3 linked regions of the Homo sapiens genome follow. Changing the gene in region 1 together with any one later gene gives a genetic interaction. Each region holds a gene or a part of one and is shown in the gene's direction. Other genes may lie near its edges.

Region 1 (2,356 bases):
CGGGTGTGGTGGGCGCACCTGTAATCCCAGCTGCTTGGGAGACTGAGGCAGGAGAATCGCTTGAACCCAGGAGGCAGAGGTTGCAGTGAACGGAGATTGTGCCACTGCACTGCAGCCTAGGTGAAAGAGTGAGACTCTGTCTCAAAAAAAAAATATTCATTTTTTAATTTTTGACAAAATTTTAACGTTTTATATTCTGCCATTGGCAACAAAGGCTGTCAGTTTTCCTTGAGGTGATAGACTTCTTTCATTCCTTTAAGAAAAAGTGTGACAAGCACCCAGGTCTGAGTGACCATGGGATTTCTTGCAGTTGTTAATTCAAGTAAAAACAGTATTCCAGGAAAATGTTCTCTAGTTTTAGCTTGCAACTCATATAGTTGCACAAATCCTTTTAATCGTATTTTGGTGTACAGTGGAAGTGCTTTATGGCATACTTCTCATTTTATCACACAGAACATTAAAAAGACATCTCAAGGATGGAGAGCTAATAAAATTAATACTTTCTACTGCATATGGTGAAGTGACAGTAAGTGAAACTGGCATTTTTAAACTACAAGCGAAGAAGGATGCAGAACAGAGAGACTGCTAATATGGTTTACTGTCACTGCCTTGATTTGTGTTGAGGCACCAGCAGCTTTCTCCACCGCTGCCTTGGTACCATCATTACAAATGTCAACCCAGTGGAAAAAGGTGTGAATATTGTCTTGAAAATAGTTTTGACCTCATGGACCCCCTCAAAGGGTCTCAGACCACAAGGGATCTACAGCCCACACTAAGAACTGCTGCCCTGACAAAAACGCTTTCTCTCTGTAACAGACTTTGAGAGTTTTGACCTGCCTGAAGAGCACCAGATTGCGCACCTCCCCTTGAGTGGAGTGCCTCTCATGATCCTTGACGAGGAGAGAGAGCTTGAAAAGCTGTTTCAGCTGGGCCCCCCTTCACCTGTGAAGATGCCCTCTCCACCATGGGAATCCAGTAAGTGAGCAAGTGCCCTTCTGGAAGGGCTGCAAACAATTTGTTTCATAACACTTCCATTACCATGGGAAGAGTTGTGCGGGAGGTGAGCCTGTGAGTAATTTCTGTCCTTCAAATGACAAGGATTAGTTTTCAGAAAAATAAACTATTCTCGATTAATATTGCTTTTCAGTCCCAAATGCCCCAGTAAAATTGTTATTCTGGAAACTGGATAGTCTTACTACAGCCAAAAGATTAATTCTCACTTACATCTTCTTAGGCTATAAGTTGAAGCATATATAATAAACTTGCTTGGAATGATGATTCCATGTTATATCCAAAGCTAATATAAGATCAAAACACCTGTGCTGTAGCATAGACTGACAATAACTTCTTACTGCAGAAGGTCTGAGGTCTTCGTTTGAACTGGTAGTCAAAGCCAACATTATGTTTTCTGTTTGTTCTGATGTGGGATAATTTGTCCTAATAAGTTACATTAGTGAGACTGTTAACTCTTACTTTGGTCTCTAAGAACAATAGAGATTCAGATACTTCTAAAACTTACTTCCTAATGAAAGTCAATTCTGGGGCCACAGACACATTCCAAAAAATGTGTCAGGAGGGGATGCAGGTGATTGATTTGACAAAGGGAAAAACATGAATTTTTGATTGACAGCTAATGTCTATGTTGATATGGACAATGACTCAAGGATTTGCAGAAATTTTAATAAGAGATTCCTGTTTTCTAGATCTGTTGCAGTCTCCTTCAAGCATTCTGTCGACCCTGGATGTTGAATTGCCACCTGTTTGCTGTGACATAGATATTTAAATTTCTTAGTGCTTCAGAGTTTGTGTGTATTTGTATTAATAAAGCATTCTTTAACAGATTCTTCCTAGTATTGTGGTTGCTTTTCCATGGAGGTTACTTAAAATAACATGAAAGCTAGCTGAGGTGTTTAACAAAGAGTCTATAATGTGACAATAGAGATTTGTCTGATGTCTAAAAACTTAAATCTTTTTGGTTTAACAGCTTATTTTAGAAGCTGCCACTGTTTTTTCCTGAAAAGTATACCCCTCAATGTGTACTTTATTGACTTTTTGTGGCCATTAACTAGTGACAGTTATTAGATCTCTTAATTAGAAGAGCTACTTCCAACTCATTAAGTATCTATTGCTGGGCATTCTTTATTGCCGGTTCTACTTAGTTTCTAATGACTTTAATACTCAGTATTGAAAGGCTCTAAATCTGAGAATTCAGCCTCCTTGGGATCTTCAATTAGATTCCTTAAAGATCACTGGAGATAATTTACTGATAGTAAGGTCTACACTCCACCTATAGGAAACTGTATTTAGTTGTTTACCTTGTGTTGGACATGAGTATTTGAGAAGCATTATTATGTTT
Region 2 (2,514 bases), on another chromosome or scaffold:
AGGGGGAGAGTGTGTGAGTCACAGGTCTCCCAGATTCCCTTAGTGTTACAGCGTGGTGGGAATGACATCACTGTTTGTAGATCTACCCTTGTCAAGGGGGATCAAATGAGCAGGGAGGTTCTTTACCATCTTTAAAGATATTAAGTAGTCTGGGCACGGTGGCTCATGCCTGTAATCCCAGCACTTTGGGAGGTTGAGGTGGGCGGATCATGAGGTCAGGAGTTCGAGACCAGCCTGGCCAACATAGTGAAAACCTGTCTCTACTAAAAATACAAAAAAATTAGCCGGGTGTGGTGGCGGGCAACTGTAATCCCAGCTACTTGGGAGGCTGAGGCAAGGAGAATCACATGAACCCGGGAGGCAGAGGTTGCAGTGAGCTGAGATCGCCCCACTGCACTCCAGCCTGGGTGACTGCGAGATTCCATCTCAAAAAAAAAAAAAAAAGATATTATAGTAATACCTACTTTTTTTTTTTTTTTTTTTTTTTGAGTGCAGTGGCACGATCTTGGCTCACTGCAATCTCTGCCTCCTGGGTTCAAGCGATTCTCCTGCCTCAGCCTCCCAAGTAGCTGGGATTAAAGGCGCCCGCCACCACGCCTGGCTAATTTTGTATTTTTAGTAGAGATGGGGTTTCACCATGTTGGCCAGGATGGTCTCGAACTCCTGACCTCAGGTGATCCGCCCGCCTTGGCCTCCCACATATTAAGTAATACCTACTTTTGACAGCCATGAGTAGCATCTTTTTTTAAATGTGGTCACTTCTTTTTTCTCATTGCCAGAGTCGTGTCCCAAATGCGAACATCCTCGTGCTTACTTCATGCAGCTTCAGACCCGCTCTGCAGATGAGCCGATGACCACCTTCTACAAGTGCTGCAATGCTCAGTGTGGACACCGCTGGAGGGATTAGGGCCAGGATGGCCCAGCTGCCCTAGTGTGTGCTTGCCTTGTCCCTCGGGGTAGATGCTTAGCTGGCAGTATGAGTTGTGTGTCCTGAGGGTCTTTGCTAGTGTGGTGGAAAGATAAACCTTTTGAGGTGAAGAGCCAGGGGGTCAGGAAATATGGCCTATCTGCCAGGCAGGGTGGATGAAGTCATGAATGTCTGGGAGTTTTTCTGTGTGGGGAGGAGACAGAGACCCATAACTAAATATGCTCTGTGTAAAGTCCTATTCTTTCATCTTCCACTTTATTGGCAGTTGACATTCCCTTACTCCCAATCAACACTCTTAAATATTTGTACTGTTTGTAAAACTTAGTACATGTCCCTAAATATTTAACTGTTACTTGTAAACTTGTGTAATTTATTATTTATTTTAATCAAAATTCTGAATATTTCATTTAAATGAAAGTTGGAATATTGCCTTCTCAGTGTTTTAAATAGCTTAAGAGGTAGAAAGCAAACCCCAAATCACAGTGATCCCAGAATAGACTACATACTTACATTTGAACAGGCTACGAAAATGTTAATCACCGGGATTTCAATTTCTTTCTTTATTCCTATTCTTACTCCCTTATTCATTTTTTTGAACCTCCCCTGATTTGCTTCCTCGGGTTGCTTTAAATGTATAAGATACTATTTATTTATTTATTTATTTTATTTATTTATTTATTTATTTAAGACAGAGTCTTGTTCTGTCGCCCAGGCTGGAGTGCAGTGGTACGAATTCAGCTCACTGCAACCTCTGCCTTCCGGGTTCAAGGGATTCTCCTGTCTCAGCCTCCCAAGCAGCTGGGACTACAGGCATGCACCACCACACCTGGGTAATTTTGCATTTTTAGTAGAGATGGGGTTTCTCCATGTTGGTCGGGCTGGTCTCCAACTCCTGACCTCAGATAATCTGTCTGCCTCGGCCTCCTAAAGTGCTGGGATTACAGGCGTGAGCCACTGTGTCCCACCAATCTTTACATTTAATATGACTATTTTCTTATTGTTTGAACATGTTGATCAGTTCCTGATCACAATATGGGGCCTATCCTATATGGGTCCTAGAGTGGTTGGATTTTATTTTTTAACCTAAACACAGACCCTAGGTTTGAAAGGGTGTACTGGGTCTGTTAGACTTATAGGCATTTTTTTTTTTTTTAATACTTAGCCATGCATCTCTTGCATTGTCACTCCTTTAGGAGTGCATCTGTCTTCTAAGGGTTAGCTCTCCTAACTCTTTTAAATCCCCTCTAATTTGATTAATGATTGGGGGCAGCCTTCTGAACAATATTTCACGGGACGAATACCCAGTTTGTTTGGTGGGGGTGTACCTGACTTGGAGGAGGACCATGGGCGAGACCCGATCTTATTTTAGATGAGTTTCTTGACAAAATTTTTTCAGCAGCTGTTTGAGTGTCTGGTTCGTGCACTGTACTTGAGCTCTGTGGCCTGTAGGATGTACGCAATTTCCACTTTATTTTTAATAGTCTAGTTAAGTCCTGAACTCTTGCAGCCACAAATGTTGGTCCATTGTCTGATCTCAGAGGCAGTCCAAATCTGGGAATAACGTCTCCTAACAACACCTGAGTCAC
Region 3 (3,577 bases), on another chromosome or scaffold:
TCCCTTTTTTTTGCCCAAGGTGCCCATTCTGCTTAGTTGAGGCTCTTACTTCCCGTGGTTCCTTCTCAGTGCAGGACTCTCTCCTGCTGTGAGGGAGTTCTCATCAGCTCCACCCAGCCCTCCCTAGAGCCCTGCCCTTGTGCTGCTGTAGTCTCCTGGCAAGTCCTCTCGGAGTTCCACCTGTTTTCACATCTTCACTGAGTTCTTCATTCCGGGAGGCAGGCAGGGGGACTTCCCCTTTGAGATTTTTGGGAGATTTCTGAGTTCTTGGCTCTTGGGCCTTATCTTCTCACTTTCCCTGATAGCACGGGGGTCTCAGTGTGCTCTGAGGTGTTTTGAGGTTTTGTAGGGTACTTTGTCATCTGGTTGTGTGAAAGCTGTTGCCCATGGAGTTTTTTTCCTTTTGGCTTCCTTTTCTAAGACTATGTAAAATACTCAATTTGCAGGTTATTGAAGCAAACCTAGATGGAGAATTGAATTTGAAAATAGAAACTGAATTAGTATGTGTTACAACTCATTTTAAAGATCTTGGAAATCCTCCATTAGGTAAGTTTTCTAGTGGGTTATATTTTGCTTTGGATAAGTTAATTGTTTCAGATAACCTACCTGTTGAGGTCTCTTCATGTAAAAAGGTTGAAATTCAGTTGACTTTGTTTCATGCTTGGGTGAAGAACAAAGGAATTGAGACTGGACTATGTATCCCTGTGGTGTAGTGGGGCAGTTAGCCACCAGGGGGAGAAGCTGTGCCACCAAGTAGCTGACAGATCTGTGCAGGGTCTCCATCCTCTGTAGAATTCGGATCAAGTTACATAACCTCCAAGATCCCTTCCAGCTATTCAATTCCTGTCCTACTCCTAAAGATTTCTATTTCTCACCTGGCATGGATTCAGAAAGGTAGATACATTTGTTCTTATATTCTCCTCCTTCAGTTACTTCCATATGTATGAAATTAGTGTAGCAGATGCAAAACTGTTTCACTTGATCACATTTCTTATCTCATACAAGGTAATAAGGGACGATAGAGTCAGTTCAGCAAGTGGGGAGAGAGGGGACGGTTGGACAGTTTGGTGAGTTATAAGCCAAGAGGGGGTTAGAATCATGGCTGGAAAGTGGCAGCTGCACAGTAGCAGGGGCTGCCTGAGCAGGAAAGCAGGTAAAGGACCAGGGGAGAAACACCTGGGGATGATGAGAAAATCATTTTATGATACATAAGTGTGCCAGAACCAATAAAATCGGCCCTAGTCACATTTAAGTTACTACGAGTCTGCTTGAATATAAACACAGATTTTAGCATAGAGTTGGAAGGAATTTTTACTTTCTAGTTAAGAGCATCCTGCTCCAGCAGAGTGAAATCCATACGGTTATGCCTTTGATAATATTGTGTAAAGCGATTCATTCTGATGTCACTCATTTTGTTTCTTTTAATAAACATAAGGTGGGACTTATCTTTGGTACTTTCTCAGAGGTAGAAAGGATGTTTTCTTTTTTTTTTTAATTCCACTCCAGAATGACAGGCCTTGTATTAGTTAATGTATATATTTTCACTCTTAAAATACATAGTAAGTACAAATAAATAAAATTTTCTTTGACCTGAAGAGGGAGATTGAGTTATATTTCAAGTCCCCTGTAAATAAAGATGCCTTGGAAATTATCATAGTATTTTAAATAGTTAGGACCTAATGCTTAATGAATGACAACATTTACAAGTTGCAATATTTCTTCAGGATGCTAAAATCAGTGCTAAAGTGAATCATTTATTTAAGTAAAATGCATTGAGTATCTCCAGGTTTCCTGTTACGTGGGAAGATGTTGTATTTAAATGCATTCCTATCATTTTAGCCTCTGAAAGCACCCATGAGGACAGAAACGTGGAACACATGGCTGAAGTGCACATAGATATTAGGAAGCTCCTACAGTTTCTTGCTGGACAACAAGTAAATCCCACAAAGGCCTTATGCAGTGAGTGTGCTTCTCTGTTTTGTTTTTCATATTCTTTCATATTCTAAATACTGCAGTCAACTCTAGTCTAACAGATTGCATATAGTCTCATAAATCCAAAAAAAAAAAAAAAAGCTCAATTATGTGGACTTTAACTTCCTAGAACAGTGGGGTTTTTTAAATTTTCCTAGATTCAGAAGTACCTAAGGTGGCAGCAGAGAAACAACCCCTGGGCACTCTGTTAGGGCCTGAAACCTGCAGCCACACTGGTTGGTAGGTGGGTTGTGTGCTGCCTCAGTTGGCCAGCACACCTGGAGATGCCATCGGGAGAATGGGTGCAGATCATCCCACCTTCTCCATGGTCATCTAATTTGACCTGCTCAGAGTGCCAGACACGGTTTGGCTTGGATTTAAGTTTTCCCTTGTGATGTCTTGTTTCCTTTCTGTGGCTATGCTGGCCTGCATTCGCTGCCCCATATCTGTCCCTTGGCTGCTGGTTGTTAACAGTTGCCTCTTGATTCTGGCTGGGCCCCATCTTGTGAGGTCACACACCTGCTCCAGCACTCTTCATCTACTGACCACACATGAGAAAGGCATTACCTGCCAAGAGCTTTTCAAGGCATTTTTGTCACCTTACTACTGAAATCACAGCAACCTAAAAGCGACTGCATCCTGGATTTGAAGTTCCACGTTTTGTAGCATAGCTCCCAGGCTGAGCTGAGAGGGAGGTTGAGCCAACACTGCACCTCATCCCCTTCAGATCTGCAGTGTGCTGTAGAGAAGGAACAGAAGATTCTAGGTGGCAATGTCAAGGACCAGCCCTTTTGAATGAGAGACATGAAGAGAATCAGAAGAGACCATGGGAGGGGCAATGGGTGTTTGGGAATTGGGGAAGGTGTCACACAGTTGGAGTGATGGGCACAGAAGGAGATATCGCCAGAGAAGCAGCTCTGAGGGTAGAGATGGAGAAGCTAGACTAGGCCAGATCATGGGGAGTTTTGGGGTGAGGTACCTGTGCTGCATTTTAAGGAACTTTGACATGGACGATGTCATATTTCTAGGGCTGAGCATAGTGGGAGCTGTGTGGCAGTGCAGGGTCCTTAAAGGTGCTTCTGAGAACCTCGATGTGCATGGAGATCGCCTGAAGGTCATGTAAAGGGACTCCTTATTCATAGTTTGGGCTGGGCCTCATGGCTGCACTTCTCCCAAGCTCCTGTACAATGCCCAGACCCTTGGTCCTGACAAGCACAGTGTGAATGGTGAGAGAGTGAAATACCCCTCCTGTCTGCAGAGTGTGGAAACACAGGGTGTGGGGGGCCCCTGCGCTGCACAACATCAGTCTTTGAACTTGGTATTTTGGGGACTTTCTGAATCCAAGGCTGTTGAGGAACATGGAAGAGTTCTTATCAAAGGTGGTTGACTAAGCCAAGTGTCTTCCCAACATTCACTTTGGTGTCTCCACGTGTAGCAGAGAAAGGAAGACCAGCAAATTGTGATGTAGCAAAAATTTTTTTTAAAACACCGTGGGTTGAACTTCTCATACCTTCTTAACTTCCCAAAGCCCCTTTTCTGTCTCTGTTAGTCTCCTTCAGGTGTCGGCTCAATTGTCCCCTCCTCTAGCTAGGTCCTGCCACCCTCA

The links.
Region 2: changes in PTTG1 (region 1) and POLR3K impair growth when combined (synthetic growth defect), as found in Homo sapiens cells (one large-scale study listed by BioGRID).
Region 3: changes in PTTG1 (region 1) and HUS1 together harm fitness more than expected from each alone (negative genetic interaction), as found in Homo sapiens cells (one large-scale study listed by BioGRID).

What each region holds. Positions count from the first base shown.
Region 1 is NC_000005.10:160,426,899-160,429,254, forward strand, and holds the end of PTTG1 (securin), read left to right. Parts: intron 1-816; coding exon 817-975; intron 976-1,703; coding exon 1,704-1,783; 3' UTR 1,784-1,841; downstream 1,842-2,356. UniProt on the Homo sapiens protein: Regulatory protein, which plays a central role in chromosome stability, in the p53/TP53 pathway, and DNA repair. Probably acts by blocking the action of key proteins.
Region 2 is NC_000016.10:45,823-48,336, reverse strand, and holds the end of POLR3K (DNA-directed RNA polymerase III subunit RPC10), read left to right. Parts: intron 1-779; coding exon 780-907; 3' UTR 908-1,930; downstream 1,931-2,514. UniProt on the Homo sapiens protein: Core component of RNA polymerase III (Pol III) which synthesizes small non-coding RNAs using the four ribonucleoside triphosphates as substrates. Can mediate Pol I proofreading of the nascent RNA transcript.
Region 3 is NC_000007.14:47,966,188-47,969,764, reverse strand, and holds part of HUS1 (checkpoint protein HUS1), read left to right. Parts: intron 1-446; coding exon 447-546; intron 547-1,839; coding exon 1,840-1,959; intron 1,960-3,577. UniProt on the Homo sapiens protein: Component of the 9-1-1 cell-cycle checkpoint response complex that plays a major role in DNA repair. The 9-1-1 complex is recruited to DNA lesion upon damage by the RAD17-replication factor C (RFC) clamp loader complex.